Homo sapiens: one gene and its partner. The protein of the gene in region 1 interacts with the protein of each later gene in a biochemical or structural test. Each region holds a gene or a part of one and is shown on either strand. Other genes may lie near its edges.

Region 1 (7,202 bases):
CTTCAGCCCTCAGCTTCCATCTCCTGCTTTGGCCCATTCTGTACCCATCACGGGCCTCTCTGCATGTCCAACTCTCTTCCCTTCGCTTCATGCTCTCTCCCTGTTCCTCTCTGCCTGCCTTTGGGATCCCAGGGCACCTGAGTTTCCTCCTCTGTGGCAATGGGACTGAGGCACAGGACTTGAGTCCTTAGACTGTGATTAAGCACAGATACCACCTGGAAGTCTGGATTCAGATCCTGATCCTGCTTTCATCACCAACTGAGAAGTCACATGACTACTCAGAGCTTCAGCTTCCCCATCTGTAAGATGCTGGGAAGAATGTCGACTTTATAGGGCTGCTGGGAGAATTCACTGAGAATACGGACATGCAGACCACAGTATTGGACACTGCAGGCTCCCAGCAAATGTTCCTTTCCTTTTCTCTAAGTAAGGTGGGAAACTCGTGCATATCTAGGATCGCATTGCCCAATGTTCATGTGTGACATGGGCAAGTGCATCTACATAAATGTGGGCTTGGGATTGAGAAGATTTGGATCAACAGCTGGTGGCACCACTGACCAGCCAAATAGTGTCAGAAACTCCATGAGCCTCAGAGTCTGTGTCTATGAATATGGTAATAATGTTAATACCTTCCAGGGTTGCTTTAAGGACTACGTAAGTTAATATATGAAAGTATTTTGTAATCCTTGGAGTTTAAAAATTGTCATAACCCAGCACTTGTGATTATCTTGCTTTCTCAGCACTCACTTGGGTGAGCTTTGCCTTGCAGCAGGTCTTTTAGTGCCTTCGTCCAGCCCCTTGGTGGTGTTGAGCACAGAGATGACATTTGATAAGAGTTTTCTGGCGCCATGAGAGCGACAGACACAGAGCTGTGCCAGACACCTCAGGGGAGGACCTGCTGCCCAACTGTAGGGGTGGTCTGCTGCCTCCCCCAGCTGTCAGCCCCTCCGGTTTGGCCTCACACCTTCCCGGAAGCAGCTTGCTTCTGGTGACTGAGCTGGGTGGGGCGTGAGGGCTGAGGTTGTTGGAGCTGCCTGGCAGCTCTCTTCTCTCCCTCCCCTCCCATCCCTCCCTCCGCAGGCCTGCCCCCAGGAGGCTTCCCCACAGCATCCTGCATGGTGAACTCTTCAGAGCCTGTGACTCAGAGAACCCAGGCCGAGACATCCAGTGTCCAGCTAGATTTGACCCTTGCAAGCCTTCACAGATATGACTCCACGGGTTGTCTCTGTGCACTCGAATTGAGAATCCTCTCTGTTGTCATTGTTCAAGAAATAAAACACCTGGGTTGTTGCATGTTATGCTGGTCTTTGACAGGGAAAGGAACATTCCTTCCTGGGTGGCTCATGTCATCGTGTGTGTTCAGCATTGTCATTAGGCTGCTGTTTGGGAGAAAGTTTCCAATGACAGGAACAGTTGAAGAGCTTAGTCTCTATTCTCTTAACTCTATTAACCTTAATTCAATTATTTTCCTGCAAGAAACCGAGAATTCCTACATCACCTAAGGTGTTTCAGAATATAAAAATAATCAAAATATTTCCCCAGTTTATTAAACAAAGTTAGGGTAACTTATATACCAAAATCTGATAAAGACAGTATGAAGACAGGAACACTGCACATCAAATCCAGCAGCATTTTAAAAGAATAATGCCCGGTGGCACCAGGGCTCTCAGGGAGGCTGCGTCCTGCCGGGGAAAGTGCTTGGGCTCTGAGTCAGTCGGGGCTCAGCTCTCTAGCGCTGGAAGCTGGAGCTTGCTAAGTCACCTCTCCCAGCACCGGCTCCTTCCATTGCGAGAGGAGAAACCCACTTCTAGGGTTTCGTAAAGGTTGAGGAAGGTAATTCCTGTGCAGCACTCAGGGTCACCCCTGCACATAGGGCCCCTGGGCCAGCCGCCCTCACCACTGTGGGAGGCCGCCTGCTGTGGTCCAGCTGCTCATCTTGCACAGAGCCCTCCATTTTGAGCACTTTCCTGGGACACCAGGACCTTTTGCAGAGCCCTCTCTGATCTGATCTTGGATGTGAGGACTATATGTGGGAGTGCTTGACCCTGCTGATGTTTTCAACACACGGAAATGGGTTCCCTCCCTCACACCACATTCCCAATATGTATTCTCAACATTCAGAACCTCCTTCTAGAATTCCACCCTGTGGCTCCCAGCACGGCTTGGGACTCCAGTGGCGTGAGGCCAGCCAGACTGTGGTCCCCACACTTGAAATACTGGAAGGTTGTGATCATCTGCAAAGCCCAAGGAAAGCTCTGGTAGTGATATGGCCCCGTGCATCCTGCCCTGGCTTGCAGGGCAGTGGCACTTCTGCTTATTGTGAGTATAATGATTCTTTTGGGGGTTGAAGGTCAGTTTTAGGTGTCAGAGAAGGAGTGGGGTCCAGAAACTATTGCGAAAGGCCAGGATATTTGGTGAGAGGACATCCTTTGTTCTTTTTTGCTGGAGTAAGGAAAGCCTGTGTGGTTGATAAAGCCTGGCATGGCATGTGTAGTCCTGGAGGAGGGGTGAGAGCCTTGGGCAAAGAGGGGCGTGGTAGGGCCACAGATGAGGGCTCCCAGGCACTGGGCCTCCTTCCCAAAGAACAATCATCAGGACATCCCAGAGACCACTGTCCAGGAGAAACGGGGTGACAAGCCCTCTTTGAGCTCGGGAGCATTTTAATCAGTGCTCAAGAGGAAGAGAAAAGAAACAAAAAGTGCAACCAGCCAGAAAAACAACCAAGCAGCTACCCACCCAACCACCCATCCACCCACCCACTGACCCAACCAACCACTCCCCCACCCAACCACCTATCCATCCACCCACCGACCCAACCAACCAACCAACCAACCACCCACACAACCACCCATCCACCCAACCCACTGACCCAACCAACCAAACCAAGCAACCACCCACCCAACCACCCATCCACCCACCCACTGACCCAACCAACCTAGCAACCACTCACCCAACCACCCATCCATCCACCCACTGACCCAGCCAACCAACCAACCAACCAACCACCCTCCCAACCACCCATCCACCCACCCACTGACCCAACCAACCAACCAAGCAACCACCCACCCAACGACCCACCCACCCACCCACTGACCCAACCAACCAACCAAGCAACCACCCACCACCCACCCACCCACTGACCCAACCAACCAACCAAGCAACCACCCACCTACCCAACCAACCCCCACTTACCCAATCAACCAACCAAGCAACCATCCACTCACCCAACCAACCACCCACCCACCCAAGCAACCAATCAACGAACCAAGCAACCACCCACCTACCCAACCAACTACCCCCCACCCACCCAAGCAAGCGAGCAAGCGAGCAAGCAACCAAGTAACCATCTACTCACTCAACCAAGCAACCACCCACCTACCCAACCAACCAATCAACCAACCAAGCAACCACCCACCTACCCAACCAACCAATCAACCAACCAAGGAACCACCCACCTACCCAATCAACGAACCCCCCACCCAACCAGCCAAGCAACCAAGTAACCATCCACTCACCTAACCAATCAACCAATCAACCAATCAGGCAACCACCCACCTACCCAACTAACTAACCCGTAACCACCCAACCAACCAAGCAAGCAACCACCTGCTCACCCAACCAACCAATCACCAAACAAGCAACCACCCACCCACCCACTCAACCAACCAACTACCCAACCAAGCAACCACTCACCCAACCAACCATTCAACCGACCGACCGACCGACCGACCGACCCACCGACCCGACCGACCAACCAACCAACCAAGCAACCATCCAACCATTCAAGAGTGTGTTCGGGGGGATTTTCGCTCGGGGCTGACGCGGTTCTCTGGCCGCTGTGCCGTGCTGGGCCACTAGGTGGCAGCGGAGGCCGCCCGGAGCGACAGCCGGCGGTGCGGAGGCGGGCCCGGCGCGGGCAGGCAGGAGGCTTAAAGCCCCGCAGAGCCGCAGCCGCCTAGCTGGGGGAGAGGCCCGTCCGGGGCTGGCTCTGAGCGCCGCACGGCCGTCGGATCCCGGGGACGCCGGGGGCCCGGGCTGAGCGCCGCGGCCCGCGAGGAGGAGCACCGGTAAATAGCCACAACTTTCTATCTCCTTGAGATCCTGAGAATAAATGCAAAATCGCGCTTCCGCTGCATGTGGAAGTGAGCGGGGCGGCAGCTAGCTTGCCCCGTGAGTTTTTAACACAGCTCGATATGATGTTTAGTATAATTGCATAATTTACCGATATATCTGAGCTGGAACTCAGCTGTAACAAATGATTGTAGTTCAATAAATGCTTAGATTACCAATTTTTTCCTTTTTTATTTTTATAGATTTAGGGGGTACAGGTGCTGTTTTGTTATATGGATGTATTGCATAGTGGTGGAGACTGGGCTTTTAGTGTAGCCATCACCCCTATAGTGTACATTGTACCTATTAAGTAATTTGTTGTCCCTCACCCCCTCCCTCCCTCCCAAAGTGATTACAAATATTAATGATGACAGTGATGACAGAAATTCTCTCCAGATGTGATCTGAGTTTGGAGGGCAAAGGGATTTTTGAAAATGAATCATAAGAGAGAAATTTTGCAACAAAGGAGTGTGGTACATTTAAATTGCTGTTTTTTTTTTTAAATACTGTGCTCACGCGGACCTAATAAACTATCAAGCAGACCTCATGGAATTCCACATAATGCAGAAGCGAGGGAAAAATAGGTATTGAGGGAAAAGCAGCACTGTTTTCCTCAATTTTAACACGTATGTGCAGCCTACACTTACAAACTTAAGACAGTAGCTTTTAACATGTGACTTTGCTCAGGGTAACAGACCATTCTGGTTATAGCCTTACTTACAGCTGTGGAGGCTGAATCCTGATGGGTCTAAGAAGTGTCAGGACAAGTGTTAGGGATGCACCTGTCTGTCTGTCTTAAGGGAATACGGGTCTGGGCAGTCTTAAATCGGAGCTCCCTTGAGGAGAATGTCGTGCAGTAGCCTTAGGAATGTGAACATTGGGAGACTGGCTGGGATTTTGTAGGTTATGAGTTGGGGACACTTATGATAGTGAACTTGAGCCCAGGAGAGAAGCCATAAAAAGTGAAACTGTCCTGGGCACTTGGAGGTGAGTGTCTCTCTAGTAAGATGCATGTGAAAGGCTGGGAGCTGAAAGCAAGGAGAGCAGAAGAGGCTGGTGAAGATTCTAATCTGCGTGTCCAGGGGCACTCTTCCAGGTCTCAGGAACGCAGGTCAGAATGTGCAAGCCAGCTGCCGGGCACGTGGCTCACCCCTGTAGTACCAGCACTTTGGGAGGCTGAGAGAGAAGATCGCTTGTGGCCAGGAGTTTGAGACCAGACTGGGCAACATAGGGAGACCCTGTCTCTTAAAAAAAAAAAAAAAAAAGGACTGAGTGAGCCGAGCCCAGTCCTCTGATGCACTGTGTCATTCATCCCCTTTCTTAGGCTGTGTTGGTTCTAGGCTAGCTGCTGTCTTTCTTTGGTAGGCTGCTAACCTCTTTGGATTGTGAATTTAAAACATGTTTTACAGTAAATTTGCTGCCAAGACAAGAGGTGTATTTCTCCAGCAATGAATTCCTCATTTCACCTGCATTTCTTGGATCTCAACCTGAATGCCACAGAGGGCAACCTTTCAGGACCCAATGTCAAAAACAAGTCTTCACCATGTGAAGACATGGGCATTGCTGTGGAGGTGTTTCTCACTCTGGGTGTCATCAGCCTCTTGGAGAACATCTTGGTCATAGGGGCCATAGTGAAGAACAAAAACCTGCACTCCCCCATGTACTTCTTCGTGTGCAGCCTGGCAGTGGCGGACATGCTGGTGAGCATGTCCAGTGCCTGGGAGACCATCACCATCTACCTACTCAACAACAAGCACCTAGTGATAGCAGACGCCTTTGTGCGCCACATTGACAATGTGTTTGACTCCATGATCTGCATTTCCGTGGTGGCATCCATGTGCAGCTTACTGGCCATTGCAGTGGATAGGTACGTCACCATCTTCTACGCCCTGCGCTACCACCACATCATGACGGCGAGGCGCTCAGGGGCCATCATCGCCGGCATCTGGGCTTTCTGCACGGGCTGCGGCATTGTCTTCATCCTGTACTCAGAATCCACCTACGTCATCCTGTGCCTCATCTCCATGTTCTTCGCTATGCTGTTCCTCCTGGTGTCTCTGTACATACACATGTTCCTCCTGGCGCGGACTCACGTCAAGCGGATCGCGGCTCTGCCCGGGGCCAGCTCTGCGCGGCAGAGGACCAGCATGCAGGGCGCGGTCACCGTCACCATGCTGCTGGGCGTGTTTACCGTGTGCTGGGCCCCGTTCTTCCTTCATCTCACTTTAATGCTTTCTTGCCCTCAGAACCTCTACTGCTCTCGCTTCATGTCTCACTTCAATATGTACCTCATACTCATCATGTGTAATTCCGTGATGGACCCTCTCATATATGCCTTCCGCAGCCAAGAGATGCGGAAGACCTTTAAGGAGATTATTTGCTGCCGTGGTTTCAGGATCGCCTGCAGCTTTCCCAGAAGGGATTAAGCACAAAGTGCTCCTCTCTGTGGCTCTGTTCTCCTTTGTTTGCTCACCTATGACAAAGCGACAGCCAAGGGGTAGGCGGGAGTGCTAGCATCCCATTTTTCTCTTTACCAGCTCAGACATGGGCCTAAGAGGCTCTCTCTGTTCAGTTCCTGGTGATTATGTCCAACATGCAAGGGTTGCTTATCCACTCTGGGGACAGTCATGACAATTTCTTACTGTCCTTTTGTGTCCTATGGTTTCTACTGCTCCCACCCATTTCTGGGGGCCCCATCCACCCTCCACCTAGCAGGCATGTGCTCGGGGAATGCACAGCACCCTCAGTGCAAGCCAGACATGATGAAACACGTATTGTGACGCGAAGAAAACCGTGATATCGACGCCAGGTGGGATTGCTTCTTCTCCCCAGAAGCAGGTCCACACTCTGCTGGCTGCACTCTGAGCTATGCATGCTTTTCAGGGAAGAAAAGAGTGGCCAGATTCTTTCCATCAGAAGCAATCTGTTCATTTGTTCTGAAATGTCTTCTTTGCTCCCCTTGCCTGAACTTTTGATTCATGGCTTTTGTTCATAATTGTCTGAATAATTGTACTTCTGTCAATCATGGTGTTGCGCTTACCCAGACATAAAACCTTATGCTAGAAACCCTGCCTCATGTGCTGTGGAAGACT
Region 2 (5,508 bases), on another chromosome or scaffold:
CTGCAGTGGCTGTTCCACCAGGAGGTAATTCCCTTCTGGTCTCTTTCCCCTCCACATCTGCATCCTCTTCAAATCCTGCCATTTCAGACCACATTTGAGAGCTCTAGAGAACAAGACATCTGACACGTGACGTGTCCAGAAGATGAGCCAGATTTCAAAGAACTGAGATCTGCTTTAAAAACGAAGCTCTCCAAAGTTACTGGAGTCTGGGTAATAGTGATCACCAGAGTAATTTGTGTGCAGGACATCAAATCAGGCTGCTCGAAATGCTGCCTAAATTGGCCAGTGGTTTTATTTGCTTTTCTGTCAACCTAATATTCATAGGAAATAGAGTTTCAGAGGAATGATAGGATCCTGGTGGAATAAAAAGGGAAAAGACCATCTTGAGCAGGAGTTTCAGGGTCCTCCGTTTTTCCCAAGTTACTTTCACTCCTGAGATCTTGCATGTTAGAACTACAGCTTAATGTAGTGAAATAGGAAAGTTCTCTGTTAGGAGCTTAGCCTTACCTTGTCATGGACATTAAAGTAATTGTCTCTCTTTGGGCTTCAATTTTCCCATCTCTCATGGGAAGGGCTGAACCAAGCAATCCCCAAAATAGCTTCCAGCCTTAACCTTTTTAGGGGTCTCGTTTAAATAGAAGATAACAGGGAAATGGTCACAGTTTACCCACCATTCCCTCCTCCTTATCACAACTTATACCACCGCTGTACTGCACACCTCCTTTCTCAGCATTGCTGCTGTCCTTAAAATGCCTTTAACTCCACAAGAGAGTGTGTTGTTAATGTTGGCTCAAGGTCCTTCCTGGTGAGTGGCCAACATTGTTTTGCTCCTTGCAGGGGTCCCACCAATCTTGTTTGCTTCTGCAGAGCCTCAGCCTGCCTGGAAGATGCCGAGATCGTGCTGCAGCCGCTCGGGGGCCCTGTTGCTGGCCTTGCTGCTTCAGGCCTCCATGGAAGTGCGTGGCTGGTGCCTGGAGAGCAGCCAGTGTCAGGACCTCACCACGGAAAGCAACCTGCTGGTACGTGGGCCATGACTGCCATCTTGGCTTAGACATTAGATGGGACTGGAGCTGGGAAAGCTCAAAAGAAAAGGGTGTGGGGAAAGGGAAATTCATTCCCAGTGATAGGCGTGATTCAATCCAGGGCAGGAGCAAAACTTTGCAGTGAAGTAAGAAATGGGAGAAGAAATCAGGGAAGGAAGCAGCTTCAGGGAGAGGGGTTGAGTCCACAATTTCTGCTTGGTTATCCTTACTTCTTGCCCCATCTTTTATGGAGACCTTGAACCCTTTAAGCTAGAGATGGTGCTATAAGAGCAATAATGGACCCCTCAATCTATTCTGTACTTTAAATCTTTAGCTTCCCAAACTATTCCTTTTTAAGAAGCTCATATCACTTGCCATTTTCATTCCATATTTCTTACCCTTTTATCTACTACCGGTTGCAAAACCAGCCAGGTAGTTCTTCAAATCATCTCTGGAAGAAGGAAAAACCAGGGGCCCTTTTTTTTTTTTCTTTAATTGGTGCCAAATGTCTCATGTTTATTCTGGAGGACTGGCCTTCTGCTGTGTTCCTCTACAGTCTTTCCAGAGCATGTGAAGGCCCTTTGCATCAGGCAGGAGCTCCCTCCAGGTCACCACAGGGTGTATGTATCTGCCTGTGGGGGGTGTGTGTGTGTGTGTGTTGGGGGGCATAAATGAGTAATGATGCCAAATCCAGAGATTAAAAGGCACACTGAGACCAGGCGAGATGGCTCATGGCTGTAATCCCAGCACTTTTAGATGCTAAGGTGGGAGGATTGCTTGAGCCCAGGGATTCAAGACAAGCCTGGGCAACATAGTGAGACCTCCACTTCTACAAAAAATAAAAAAGTTAGCCAGATGTGGTGGCATGTGCCTGTAGTCCTAGCTACTTGGGAGGTTCACTTGAGGCCAGGAGTCTGACGACACAGTAAGCTATGATCACACCATTGCACTCCAGTCTGGGTAACAGAATGAGACCTTGTCTCAAAACAAAACAAAATGAAACAAACAAACAAACAAACCCCCATACTGTTAGTGTCAGTGACCGGAATTTTAATCTTGTTGCCATCACCTGGCAGGTGCTGAGGGTGGAATGTACATAACTACATTCTGTGTATTTTGTCAATGCAGAAGCTGAGTTAAGGTGAAGATAGAATGAGGTCCTCAAAGACACAGACCAGTTTTCATGTGTAATATAAAATAGAAACAAAGAGCCCAGGGGATTCTGTGAGTTCCAGTTTGGAAAGACCCAAGAGTCTCTTGACTTGAGACACCCACAGCACAGCTCACCAGGGAGGGTGCACTGGACACAGTCAGGACCCATGGGTTCTAGACCCAGTTTTGAGGTGTGGGACCTTGACCAGGTCCTATCACCTCTCTGAGTCTCCTGTTTCACTATCTGTCCACGGGAGGGGAGTGTAAATTAGTTTTTTCCATTGTTAACGTTCCACAGAGTTGTAATTCTGAACACCTGGAGTAGGCAATGTCCAGCTCAACAGAGTGGGTAGGATCCTTTTATTTTCTCCTTTGCTATTCCCAAGAAAGAGAGCAGCCAGTGAGCTTTTCATCTTTTTATCACTGAAAACTCAAGGCTGCAGCCTATGCAGCCATTTTCCTAAGCTAATATGTACCACAATAGAGTCCTCTAGGGACAAGGAGCAGAGACACAGGTTCCACAGACGGTGCAATGGAAATAACGCTAGCTTTCCACCCCTCCCTCCAGTCAGAATGAGATTACAGGGAAATAAGCTTGCCCCAGAGCTCACTGGGGGATCTCTCAGAAATCAGCTCAGAAGTCGTGAAAGAACCAAGGTGCAGTTTTGGAGGCTTAGTGCAGAGATGGAGCTGGGGTAGGGCATAAAGTAGGTTTTTCATCACTGAGGTAAGGTTGAGGCATTATTTTTTATTTTTTGTTTATTTATTTATTTTTTTGAGACGGAGTCTCGCTCTATCACCCAGGCTGGAGTGCAGTGGCGCGATCTCCCCTCACTGCAAGCTCCACCTCCCAGGTTCACACAGGTTGAGGCATTATTAAAAATATGTTTAAAAATATGGGCCCTAGTAGCCAGACTTCTATCACCTGGAGAGATTATCCCCCAAATTTCAGCCCCACTCCCCTCCTGGACTTGAATTAAACCATATGTATTTATTCAATATTCTTTTTATTTATTTATTTATTTTTTTGAGACGGAGTCTTGCTCTGTTGCCCTGGCTGGAGTGTGGAGTGCAGTGGTGTGATCTTGGCTCACTGCAACCTCTACCTCCCAGGTTCAAGCGGTTCTCCTGCCTCAGGCTCCAGAGTAGCTGGGATTACAGGCGCCCGCCACCACACCCAGCTTATTTATTTATTTATACTAGAGATGGTATTTCACCATAGTTGGCCAGGCTGGTCTTGAACTCCTGACCTCATGTGATCTGCCTGCCTTGGCCTCCCAAAGTGCTGGGATTATAGGTGTGAGCCACCGTGCCCGGCCCTCAATATTCATTAAGTGCCAACAACTACCACCCGTCTGCCTTTCTTGGAGCCACTCCTTTATGTCAGGCATATAACAGTAAGACTTTGGTCCTGTTCACAAAAGCTAGGGGTGGCTAGATGGCTAGACAAACCATGGAATGGGATGGGAAGTGTGTTGCAGTTGCCAGGCAGAAGCATGAAGGGGATGGGACAAAAGAGGCAGTGGCAAGATCTTAGATGCCCACGAGTGCCAAGAAAGCAGGTGGGCAGACCTGCTCTGTAGGGAGGCCTCGACGCTTGACACGCCCGACACTGTGCCCTGTGTCCTCGGCACGTGGCGAGGGCGGCCAGGGCCTAGGCGCAGTGACGGGCGCGGCAGCCGGGCCGGGGTGCGGGGCACGGGCTGCCCTCATGCCCTCGCGTCTTCCCCCAGGAGTGCATCCGGGCCTGCAAGCCCGACCTCTCGGCCGAGACTCCCATGTTCCCGGGAAATGGCGACGAGCAGCCTCTGACCGAGAACCCCCGGAAGTACGTCATGGGCCACTTCCGCTGGGACCGATTCGGCCGCCGCAACAGCAGCAGCAGCGGCAGCAGCGGCGCAGGGCAGAAGCGCGAGGACGTCTCAGCGGGCGAAGACTGCGGCCCGCTGCCTGAGGGCGGCCCCGAGCCCCGCAGCGATGGTGCCAAGCCGGGCCCGCGCGAGGGCAAGCGCTCCTACTCCATGGAGCACTTCCGCTGGGGCAAGCCGGTGGGCAAGAAGCGGCGCCCAGTGAAGGTGTACCCTAACGGCGCCGAGGACGAGTCGGCCGAGGCCTTCCCCCTGGAGTTCAAGAGGGAGCTGACTGGCCAGCGACTCCGGGAGGGAGATGGCCCCGACGGCCCTGCCGATGACGGCGCAGGGGCCCAGGCCGACCTGGAGCACAGCCTGCTGGTGGCGGCCGAGAAGAAGGACGAGGGCCCCTACAGGATGGAGCACTTCCGCTGGGGCAGCCCGCCCAAGGACAAGCGCTACGGCGGTTTCATGACCTCCGAGAAGAGCCAGACGCCCCTGGTGACGCTGTTCAAAAACGCCATCATCAAGAACGCCTACAAGAAGGGCGAGTGAGGGCACAGCGGGGCCCCAGGGCTACCCTCCCCCAGGAGGTCGACCCCAAAGCCCCTTGCTCTCCCCTGCCCTGCTGCCGCCTCCCAGCCTGGGGGGTCGTGGCAGATAATCAGCCTCTTAAAGCTGCCTGTAGTTAGGAAATAAAACCTTTCAAATTTCACATCCACCTCTGACTTTGAATGTAAACTGTGTGAATAAAGTAAAAATACGTAGCCGTCAAATAACAGCAGCATGGATCGGAGGAGCACAGTGGTTTCCATGCGGTAGGATATTTCACAGGACTTAGTGAGCGTGAAAGGAAAATGTGCTTCCTGCCCCCACCCCCAAATGGATCTTCGAGGGATCAGATAGTTTGGGTGAAGGCACAGGGTGGCTCCAGCACCTCTAGGATGGCCGTATTTTCCACACACTCCACTGAGTGGGAGACTGCTCAGCTAGCACACGTGTAAAGGCAGGATTCCTGCAAGAGTGACCCCGGGCGCTCAGGGGCTCCCCGGCTCCGGTCCACCTCCAAAAGCCAGTTGGACAGGTTGAGGCCTACCCACGCCTGGGAGTGCTCTGGACTGTCAGGTGAGAAGTCTTGGTAATGTCTCCGGGGAACTGCTCGTAGCAATCCATGGGACCTTAGGCAAGTCTCTGAACTTCTCCAAAATTTAGTTCTTTCATCTACCCCTCCCTTCCCAGTATGAGGGTTATTGTGAAGATTAAAGGAGAAAATGGACATAATCTTCTTTTTATCATAGAAGCTAAGTGTGAGAGCTGAGGGTTAGTATCAGTTCCAATTTCACTCCCAGGCTACTCACAGATACGCTCAGACATACGGTCTCTCTCACACACACACACTCATGGAGACACACATCTGTTTAATACAACATACTCTACGCAGTTGCTTCTTCCAGCCCCTAGGGCTTAAGCCCTGACTCAGGCCC

What was found.
Region 2: the proteins of MC5R (region 1) and POMC form a complex in vitro, tested with the Homo sapiens proteins (one study listed by BioGRID).

The regions. Positions count from the first base shown.
Region 1 is NC_000018.10:13,820,208-13,827,409, forward strand, and holds MC5R (melanocortin receptor 5), read left to right. Parts: upstream 1-3,941; 5' UTR 3,942-4,067; intron 4,068-5,519; 5' UTR 5,520-5,558; coding exon 5,559-6,536; 3' UTR 6,537-7,116; downstream 7,117-7,202. UniProt on the Homo sapiens protein: Receptor for MSH (alpha, beta and gamma) and ACTH. The activity of this receptor is mediated by G proteins which activate adenylate cyclase. This receptor is a possible mediator of the immunomodulation properties of melanocortins.
Region 2 is NC_000002.12:25,160,152-25,165,659, reverse strand, and holds the end of POMC (pro-opiomelanocortin preproprotein), read left to right. Parts: exon of another isoform or gene 1-24; intron 25-837; exon of another isoform or gene 838-867; 5' UTR 868-887; coding exon 888-1,019; intron 1,020-3,907; coding exon 3,908-4,579; 3' UTR 4,580-4,800; downstream 4,801-5,508.